Regions from separate parts of the Homo sapiens genome. Here region 2 is linked to region 1. Evidence: fine-mapped expression QTL. A gene starts in region 1. The other region holds a variant in brackets. All regions are shown on one strand. Distances are between the middles of the regions.

Evidence for each region. PIP is the estimated chance that this variant, and not a neighbour inherited with it, causes the effect.
Region 2: its variant is the best candidate, but not a certain one, in a credible set for the expression of KLC1 in whole blood (TOPMed, PIP 0.61).

What each region holds. Positions count from the first base shown.
Region 1 is chr14:103,626,352-103,631,724 of GRCh38, forward strand. It overlaps KLC1 (kinesin light chain 1), which reads left to right and starts at 2,860. Exons shown (of 17, transcript NM_001394837.1): 1 at 2,860-3,143. LOC105370688 (a long non-coding RNA gene) reads right to left here and starts at 2,792. Exons shown (of 3, transcript XR_944248.2): 1 at 2,681-2,792; 2 at 1,388-1,574; 3 at 1,151-1,189. RefSeq lists an enhancer at 1,898-1,987 and silencers at 2,428-2,627, 2,718-3,077, 3,128-3,247, 3,338-3,387, 3,428-3,607.
Region 2 is chr14:103,672,182-103,677,554 of GRCh38, forward strand. KLC1 (kinesin light chain 1) reads left to right here. Exons shown (of 17, transcript NM_001394837.1): 8 at 833-1,006; 9 at 1,151-1,250; 10 at 3,371-3,420; 11 at 3,508-3,575; 12 at 5,234-5,342. Among named protein-coding and RNA genes, the nearest start is that of XRCC3, 41 kb to the right of the region's middle. RefSeq lists an enhancer at 1,639-2,138. The variant A/G (reference allele first, on the strand shown) is at 2,089.

The sequences.
Region 1 (5,373 bases):
CTGACCACATACTACACATTGGGGAAGGGACAGGTGGGTGGTCAGAGGAGGCCTTGACCCAGGCAGGTGCTGTCAGAAGCGGCTTCCCCCAGGAAGTGACGATCATTTGAATCCTGGAGCACTGGGGGGAATGGGGGAGGGAGAACATTCTAGGCACAGTGAATACTATGTACAGGGGCATGGCTATGTGAGAGACCAGGGTGAACTCAGGAACAGATAAGGGTGTTCAGAGCACAGGAGACCAGGAGGTTGGCAGCACCAGGCCCTGGGGGCCTTGTTGACCAACCCAAGGAATTTGAAGTTGCTGCAGACAGTGATGCGTGGCAGCACTGGTGGATGAATTGGCCTTTTCTCCTTTCCCCCAACACTCCAGGGTCATTCCTGCCTGAGGACTCCTGCCCTCAGAGCTCTCCTGGGGCTTTTATTTATTTTGTTTTGAGACAGAATGTGGCTCTGTTGCCCAGGCTTGAGTGCAGTGGTGTGATCTTGGCTCACTGCAACCTCTGCCTCCCAGGTTCAAGCGATTCTCCTGCCTCAGCCTCCCGAGTAGCTGGGACTACAGACGTGCGCCACCACGCCTGGCTAATTTGTTGTATTTTAGCAGAGATGTGGTTTCACTGTGTTGCCCAGGTTGGTCTTGAACTCCTGAAGGCAATCCACCTGCCTCGGCCTCCTGAAGTGTTGGGATTACAGGCGTGAGCCACCTCGCCGGCCTCTCCTGGGGCTTTGAACGCCTGCCTCCCTCCTCTCATTTGGGTCTCAGGTCACCCGCCTGCCTCTGAGTTCACCCCTGACCACCTAGACTCTGCCTGTTCCATCATCTTTGTTCCATCTCTGCCTGTTCCATCATCTCGGCAAGATCCGGTATTTCCTTATGTGTTTATGGCCTACTTCTCCTCACTGGAATGTAAACTCTTAGAAAGCAGAGATCTTATCTATCTTGTTCACCTATGCATCCTTGGCTGTTATGAGGATCATGGGAGAGCAACAAATATTTATTGAGGAAATAAAAGAACAAGGTAATAAAGCCAGAACAAAGTGGTGGCAGTGGAGATGGATTCAAGAAATACTGAGAGGCCGGGCATGGTGGCTCACACCTGTAATCTCAGCACTTTGGGAGGCCAGCTGGGAGGATCACTTGTGGCCAGGAGTTCGAGATCAGTCTGGGCAACATAGCAAGATCTCCTCTCTGCAAAAAATTTAAAAAACATTAGCTGGGAGTGGTGGTGCACACCTGTAGTCCCTAGCTACTTGGGAGGCTGAGGCAAGAGGATCTCTTGAGCCCAGGAGTTCGAGGTTACGGTGAGCTGATTGCCACTGCCCTCCAGTCAGGGTGACAAAGATACCCTAACTCAAAGAAATATTGAGGAAGTAGAATCTTTTCCACCTGTTGTAGTAGGGCGTAAGGGAGCGGTGCAGGCATCCCAGGTTTCTGGCTAGGGTTGTGGGTGAGCAGAGGGGACAGTTACTGGGCGCAGCGGCACAGAAAGAATGAGCAGTCGATGCTTGGCGGTGCCCAGCCCAGTGGCTGAACTTAGTGACATCCAAGCTGCAGTCTGGCTGAAATCACTAACCTGAAAGTGGTATGGAGAAAGTTTGTTTGACCCTGACTCAGTGCCTCTCCCCGGGCCAACCCTACCGTGTTACCTAGGAGCTCCCCCTTTGTCTTTATAAATGAGATAAAAGTAACCAGACCTCCCTGGAAAAACCGAGGAGCACTTGCTTCTCTGGTGACTGCGGGGCCTAACTGCAGGGTTCACAAAGGGCTGCTGGTGCTGGGTGATAACATCGGAAAGGAACAGCAGTTCACAAGATGGGGCTGGGGGACTGGCCCAGGAACCCCTCCAGGTTAAATGATGCCTCCGGGCCCCGCACTTGGGACGTCTGCAGGCACTGGGAGGGTTTTTCCCAAGCCGCTGGCAGCAGCGAGCGGAGCCTCGCCCATTGAATCAGCATGCCCTCCCGGCTGGCTGCTGAGTCAGGCCTGCGGAGCCGGCGAAGCCGCAGGACTTGACCCAGGCGCGCTCCGCTGCCCTTCAGGCCGGGCTGGAGGTCGAGGCCCTGCAGCCAGGGAGATGCGCCGGTGGCTGCGTGGGGACAGAGGGGGGTTGTCTCCCACCCTCACAGTCTACACCCCGGCCCTTCCCCTTTGCCCGTCTGAGGCGCAGTTTGTGTCGAGGGGGAGCGCCTGGAAAGTTTCCTCGTACAGATACGAGGGTCCAAAAGCCCCGAGGAGAGGGAATAATGAGAAGGGGAGGGCGCAGGGTTAGAGGTCAGGGTCTCGACCAAAGGCTGTCGGTTTTCCTGGAGGAGGGAGAAAGGCCTGGCCGGGATCATCTGATTCCGGGGCCTCCCGAAGGCCTCCTAGCTGGGTTTTGGGGGGACCGAAACGAGCGCATGAAGCTCGCGGGCCTGGGAGTGGGGTGGGGCGGGAGCCCAGTGGTGGCGGCTGCGGCCGGGCCTGCACCGTCCCCGGCCGCATTCTGGTAGGGCCCACAGTCCGGCTGGAAGGGAAGCTGCCGAAGCGCTCGGTCATCGCGGCTGCGGAGTCGGAGAGGCCAGGGCCTGGCCGCCCACCCCGCGAGCCGCGCCCTGCCCCGAGCGCCCCACCCCCGTCCGCGTTACAACCGGGAGGCCCGCTGGGTCCTGCACCGTCACCCTCCTCCCTGTGACCGCCCACCTGATACCCAAACAACTTTCTCGCCCCTCCAGTCCCCAGCTCGCCGAGCGCTTGCGGGGAGCCACCCAGCCTCAGTTTCCCCAGCCCCGGGCGGGGCGAGGGGCGATGACGTCATGCCGGCGCGCGGCATTGTGGGGCGGGGCGAGGCGGGGCGCCGGGGGGAGCAACACTGAGACGCCATTTTCGGCGGCGGGAGCGGCGCAGGCGGCCGAGCGGGACTGGCTGGGTCGGCTGGGCTGCTGGTGCGAGGAGCCGCGGGGCTGTGCTCGGCGGCCAAGGGGACAGCGCGTGGGTGGCCGAGGATGCTGCGGGGCGGTAGCTCCGGCGCCCCTAGCTGGTGACTGCTGCGCCGTGCCTCACACAGCCGAGGCGGGCTCGGCGCACAGTCGCTGCTCCGCGCGCGCGCCCGGCGGCGCTCCAGGTGCTGACAGCGCGAGAGAGCGCGGCCCTCAGGAGCAAGGCGGTGAGTCCCCGGCGTGCGCCCCGGACCGCGGCCCCCTCCTCATCCTCCGCCCCGTCCCTGTCCCGCTCCTCTTCGGACCCGCCCCGGCCGTAACTCTGTCCCCATCCAGGCCTCCTTCCCGGTTTGGGTCCCGGCCCCTCTCCGTTCCCACCCCGGTACCCGCCCCAGTTCACCGCCCCGGCCGGTCCGCGACCCCTTCCAGGTTCAGGTCGGGTTCTTGTCCCCGGCCCTTTTGCCAGCCCCGGCTCCCGGCGCCGCGCGTCCTCCCCATCCGCGTCCCACTGCAGGTTCCGGTCCCCGGCCCTGCCCAGGGCCCCGCCCTGGCCCCGCATCCCCGGCTTGGCCCTGCTGCGGGCGGCGGCGGCCGTTCCCGGGGACAGCTGTGGACCCCGGGAACCCGCGACAGGGGAGGTGGCTGACCCCGGGATCGCGGCGGGCGGGGAGGCCGGAGGCCCGGCGGGGCTGGCTTTGTCCGATTCCTCCTCTTCCTTCCACCCCCGCCTCTCCCGGCACCGCCCTGAGCGGACGCGCCTGTCATTCTCGCGGGCGGCGGGGGGCCGGGTCCCTCCCGAGAGCTGGCTCCGCTTTGCCTCCTTGGCGACCCCTTATTTTCAGTAACCAGATGCGAAACGTTTCAGGCGACCCTGTTCACCTAGGCTGGCGTTGCTCCAACTAAACTTGAAGCAGCCTCCGTCCTGGAATGCTTTTTCCATGTAAAATTGGGTGTACCCTTTTCCTTAAGAAAATTAAAATAAAGCGTAAAAGTAGTGAAATTAATGCGTGATGGAGTGGATGGTTTTATAACTTAACATTTGTAGGTCATTTCTAGGTATATTTGTATTAGAATTGTTGCTGCCTGTTACTGTTTTATTATTTAAATGAATTAAGAATTTACATATTAAGCGTTTGAAAAGGAATACTTACAAAAATGATGTTTTTTAAAAATGTGAGAACAAAAAATTTGAGATATACTATTTCAGGTGTTCTGTAAAAGGGCAGTTAGAGCTTTGATTCTTTGCATTAGTTAAATCCCAAGGCCTTTTTTTTTGGTACGGCATGACTAAGCCATTGATCAGAATCAGCTCGGAATACATTGCACTAGTTTAGTGAAAGACACTTTAGAAAACTGGAAGAACCTCCTGAAGTTATATTACAGACATGGCCTTGCTTCTTTCAGGGATTGTCAGCAAGCCTGTTATGGTGAGAAATTTGACCTATTGCTCTGTTTCCTAAATATTTGTAGGAATACAATGATACTAAGTATGAAGTATATTTCAACTTGTATGGAATTCTGTGTGGGAGGGTAGGCACTCTAAAGAGCCAGTGTCTCTCCAAGTCATCAAAGAATGCAGCATCATGTTGCAGTTGAGCCTGGCAGCCCTGTCTGGCACTGAGTGCTGTGGAGGACCCAGGTGGTAACCTCTAACCCTACTGCAGCCTTGGCATTGTCTTAGAGAAAAGCATCCAGACATGCACAGGACTCTGGACAGCGTTTATCTCCAGCAAGGGGGGAGGGAATGACACTGGGGAGAGGCACACAGTATCTTCAGTATTTCATAGCAAATAACTGCAGTCGTTTAAACTTACACATTTTTTTTTTTTTTGAGATGGAGTCTCGCTCTGTCGCCCGGGCTGGAGTGTAGTGGCGCGATCTCGGCTCACTGCAAGCTCCGCCTCCCGGGTTCACGCCATTCTCCTGCCTCAACCTACTGAGTAGCTGGGACCACAGGCGCCCGCCACCACGCCCGGTTAATTTTTTGTATTTTTAGTAGAGATGGGGTTTCAACATGTTAGCCAGGTTGGTCTTGATCTCCTGACCTCGTGATCCGCCCACCTCGGCCTCCCAAAGTGCTGGGATTACAGGCGTGAGCCACCGCACCTGGCCCAAATTTATACATTTTTAAAATTTATACATTCTTAGGCATGTTTCTCAATGTTGGAAAAAAGTCAATGTGTAACTTTCTGTATAGGGCCATAAATTATCTTAAAACATACTTGTATAAAAAGAAACCTAGGATAGAAAAATCAAAAGTTGAGTGAAATGTATGATTAGTATCACCTGAAAACATTCTTTGTAGATAAGTGGAATGTTAGAAACCAGTATTTTATTTTTATTTATTTAGAGATGAGTCTCACTGTGTGGCTCAGGCTAGAGTGCAGTGGTGTGATCCCCGCTCACTGCAACCTCCGCCTCCCAGGTTCCAGTGATTCTCCTGCCTCAGCCTCCCTA
Region 2 (5,373 bases), 46 kb after region 1:
TCTTGAATAATTGAGTTAAAAGTGTCCTAGGCAGGGGGAGGTAGGGAATGCAGAAGGGAGTAGAAAGGCAGCTTACCTCCCTGAGGACCACATGTGTAAAGGCACAAAGCGGAGAGAACTCATCACTTGTTCAAGGTACTGAGGGAGGAGGTTAGTGTTCATTCATCTATCTCTGTGCCAGACCCCTTTTTCGATGCGGAGATTACATTGGTGAAGAAGAGAGACAAAGAATTTATACTCTTGGGGCTTACATTGTAATAAAAAATATTCAAGGTAGTTTAGAGAAGTGATTCTTATAAAGAACAACCAGGTGATGTGCCTGTGAGTTCACTAGGTGAGGTGGGGTGGTATAGGGAAGTCTCCTTTGAGGGGAACTGAGGAGAACCCTGAAGGATAAGTCGTAGCTAGTAGGGAGGGCTAGGAGAAGAGCATCCTGGGCAACTGGGACAGCTGTGGGCTCTTCAGAAGCTGGCAGTAAAACTCACATAGCCTTTACAAAGCCCATTTCCTTATCTTCAAAATGTGCCTAATGTGTACATTTGTACATAGTACAACCAATGTACAAAAATATAACTACCATGAAGGATTACTACAGTAATTAACACAGCTAAAGAAGATGAGCACAGTTCCCTCCCTCCCCTCATGAATAAGAATTTGAGAAATTCTGGTTATTTTATTACTACGTGGTGTAGCGAGCCAGTTAAGGATTTAAATCTGAAAGTGTAGCACAGTCGTGCTTATGTTGAGGAAGATCCTGATGTGACAGTAGGGTGGAGAATGGATTGGATGGAAGCAGAACAAGTGTCTCTAATATGCTGTTTTTTATTTTCAGGTTTTGGGGAAGGATCACCCCGATGTTGCCAAGCAGTTAAATAACTTGGCCTTACTGTGCCAGAACCAGGGCAAGTATGAAGAAGTAGAATATTATTATCAAAGAGCCCTCGAGATCTACCAGACAAAACTGGGACCTGATGACCCCAACGTGGCTAAGACGAAAAATAACCTGGTGTGTTGACTGCACAGCACTAGGGAGGGGGCCAGGAGTGCTTTCGTCCCAAGTCCAAACACTTTCTCATTTAACTGGAGATTAAAATGTATGCTTTATTTACATCTGAAAGATATGAAATATTTTATTTTATTTTATTTTAAGGCATCCTGCTATTTGAAACAAGGAAAGTTCAAGCAAGCAGAAACACTGTACAAAGAGATTCTCACTCGTGCACATGAAAGGGAGTTTGGTTCTGTAGATGGTAAGAAATATACTCCCGTTTCAAGTGAATTTAATTGTATAATGACTTGACTAATAGTAATATACTAATAGTATTAGTTACTGTTTATTAAGCACTTAACTTTGTACATCACTAAGCTAAATAGTTTAAATGTGTGATTTCACTTCACTTTCACAGCAGTCTTGTGCAGCGGGTCAAACATTACCCCATTTTAAAAGCAAGGATACCACAGGCCGGGCGTGGTGGCTCACGCCTGTAATTCCAGCACTTTGGGAGGCCGAGGTGGGTGGATCACGAGGTCAGGCGATCGAGACCATCCTGGCTAACACAGTGAAACCCCGTCTCTACTAAAAATACAAAAACTTAGCCGGGTGTGATGGCGGCCGCCTGTAGTCCCAGCTACTCGGGAGGCTAAGGCAGGAGAATGGCGTGAACCCGGGAGGCGGATCTTGCAGTGAGCCGAGATCGTGCCACTGCACTCCAGCCTGGGCAACAGAGTGAGACTCTGTCTCAAAAAAAAAAAAAGACACCACAGACTAAGTGACTTGTGTGAGGCCCCGTAGCTGAGAAGCAGTTAGACTGGGATTACAGTGCCCAGAGCCCATAACATGTCCTCATTGCAGAGACCTATACAGTTCACGCAGAAATGGAGACAGGAGCATCACCCAAATCCATCTTCATGTCCTCATTGCAGAGACCTACCCAATTCATGCAGAAATGGAAACAGGAGAATCACCCAAATTCATCTTTTCACATTTTTAATGTCTTTCCTTCCTTCTGTGCCTTTGGTTTACAGATTTCAAACCATACCGTCCATATCATCATGTATACTGCTTATTTTCTTTACATTTTTAGTGTG[A/G]GTACCTTTCAGTCATAAAAATATTTTCATAAACATTACTTTTAAGGTGGCTTTTTCCTCCATAGCATGGGTCTGTTGGTTGTCTAGAAACTTGCGTGAGTGTTCCGAGAAGATGACTTAAAACGAATATTGATTCGTATGCTTGTTTTCTTTTTTTTTTTTGAGGTGGAATTTCGTTCTTGTTGCCCAGGCTGGAGTGCAATGATGTGATCTTGGCTCACTGCAACCTCTGCCTCCTGGATTCAAGTGATTCTCCTACCTCAGCCTCCCGAGTAGCTGGGATTACAGGCACACACCACCACGCCCGGCTAATTTTTGTATTTGTAGTAGAGACAGATTTTCACCATGTTGGCCAGACTGGTCTTGAACTCCTGACCTCAGGTGATCCTCCTGCCTAAGTCCCCCAAAGTGCTGGGATTACAGGTGTGAGCCACTGCACCCGGCCTTGATTTGTATCTTTTCTACTTTTGCTAGCAACATCTTGCTACTTTTTCTTAGACTATTGTTTAATGTTTTTGTTTAGTGCTCACATTCTGAATACTCCCTTGTGCTACTTGAGCAGCTGGCATTTTAGAAATTACATTCCAGGGCCCTAGCATTTGCTGGGGTGTCTTGACAGTTGCTCACCTGTCTCAGGACATTGATTCTGTACCCTGTGTCTTACCTGTTGCTTGGTGTCCAGCTCTGTCGTCCATAGACTTTTTCCTCCAGTGTGAACCTAATCTGTCCATGCTGTAAGAAGTAGTATCTAACAAGGATCATATAAAAAAGAAAACAGGCTGGGCGCGGTGGCTCACGCCTGTAATCCTAACACTGGGAGGCTGAGGCAGGTGGATCACTTGAAGTCAGGAGTGACCAGCCTGGCCAACATGACGAAACCCCATCTCTACTAAAAATACAAAAAAATTAGCTGGGTGTGGTGGCGGGTGCCTATAATCCCAGCTACTTGAGAGGCTGAGGCAGGAGAGTCACTTGAACCCAGGAGCTGGAGGTTGCAGCGAGGCGGGATCACACCACTGCACTCCAGCCTGGGCAACAGAGTGAGACTCCATCTCAAAAAAATAAAAAACCACAGAGGCTTCATGATTTCTAGTTTACTTAGCAGGCTCTGTTATCCTTCATTTATAGTACAGGTTAAATATCCCATTATTCAAAGTGCTCCAAAGTTTGAAACTTTTCGAGTGCCGACTTGACACTCAAAGGAAATTCCCCTTAGAGCAGTTCAGATTTTGGAGTTTTGGATTAAGGATGCTCAACCTGTATGCTGTGTTTTCTTCCCTAGATGAAAATAAACCCATCTGGATGCATGCTGAAGAAAGAGAAGAATGCAAAGTAAGAATTTATTATTTTGAGATTTTCTAAATTGTATATACTGCATTCAAGATAATTATTCATTTGAAATTATTTCTTATAATTTAGGGAAAGCAAAAGGATGGGACATCTTTTGGAGAGTATGGCGGCTGGTACAAAGCCTGCAAAGTTGATAGGTATGTCTGGAATTGCGTTTGGCTGGAAAAACCAAAAAGCAGGGGGAAGGTAATTGTGTTCTACAGGGCAGCTTATAAATGACCAATGTGTAGTGTTCCTTAAGTGCACAGTCCCATGTTTTTCCCGAATTCCAATTAAAAAAACCCCACTAACCTTGTAAATGAGATCACTTACATGTATAAAACCCACTATCATGTTAGGTTGGTGCAAAGGTAATTGCGATTTTGCCATTACTTTTACTTTTAATGGCAGAAACCATACAGTAAATTCATGAGAAGCATGCCAGCAGGCCTGGGAAAGCCAGCCCCTCACACACAGCGCTGGAGACACAGATCCACACACACTCCTTTTCCTCACAGCCCATGGGGCCTTGTCCTCTGCAGAGGGAAGTGTAGGCCCCTCCGTGGCCGGCCCGAGAGCCTTGCCTCTTGAGCCCGAGCCTGTGCAGACTGCCCTCTGTGATGGCTGCTGTCCCTGGGTCCAGGTGGCTCACCTGTTTGGCTGTCTTTCCACTCTATTTTTTTTTTTGAGATGGAGTTTCGCTCTTGTCTCCCAGGCTGGAGTGCAATGGCGTGATCATGGCTCACTGCAACCTCCACCTCCCAGGTTCAAGTGATTCTCCTGCCTCAGCCTCCCGAATAGCTGAGACTACAGTCTGTCGCCATGCCTGGCTATTTTTTGTATTTTTAGTAGAGACAGAGTTTCACCGTGTTGGCCAGGCTGGTTTTGAACTCCTGACCTCAGGTGATCCACCCGCCTCGGCCTCCCAAAGTGCTGGGATTACAGGTGTGAGCCACTGTGTCTTTCCACTCTTAACTTTCCTCATCCTTTAAGACTCAGCCTACCATTCATCTATTTTCAGAAAACTCTCTGAACTCTCTCTAGGGCTCCCATAGCACTTACCATAGATTACTTGTTTCAGAGACATAGAAAATAGCTTCTTTATTTCTGTACCCAAAATGCCTATTGTAAGTAAGTGAACAGAACTCTCTCGAAGTACTTATCTATGCTAAAATGAATCTAGGTTTATTTATAATTTTTTTAGTAAGTCTGCTCTATCAAGAATGCAGAAACATCAAGCTCAATGATACAGTTTGAAAAATAAGAAAGAAAGAAAGAACACAGAAACACAGCCGTCCTCTCGGCCATCTGCTTATTGCTTCCCTGGTACATGAAGCATTTATCCTCTGCCCTCACACCCCACTGATAAGGAGGTTCTGCTTTGCTGTCTTCTCCCGGGTACTTGAGGGGAGACGGCAGCACGTGAGCAGCAACATTCAGAGCACTGTTCGTCGTTACTGTCAGCGCAGACCAAGTCGTCTCCAGGGAAAGCATGCTGATACCACACAGACCTGGCCCAGATGTTTCTGTTGACAGAGTGGCCAGTGGTCTGTGAGAGCCGCCTCAGCCTGGATGGAGTGTGGTGTTAGCCTGGCCTGCAGGGGCTGTCTACAGGACGGGCCAGGGTCATGGGAGGTAGAGCTACCTGAGAGGGAAGAACGCTTTACAATTTTACAGTTTCAGAAAAGTACAAGAGAAAGTTAAAATATATTCAAGCCAAAACAGAAGTCTGTTAGTTCTTTAGATTATGTGCTGTTGATAGTGGTTGTTCAGAGCTTATATGTCATAGTTCTGTATGTCATGTGCTTTCTTACAGTCCAACTGTTACAACCACTCTAAAAAACCTTGGGGCACTTTACAGACGTCAAGGCAAATTTGAAGCTGCAGAAACGTTAGAAGAAGCTGCTATGAGGTCTCGTAAACAGGTTAGTCATACTTCTGTCCTTAACCGGCCCA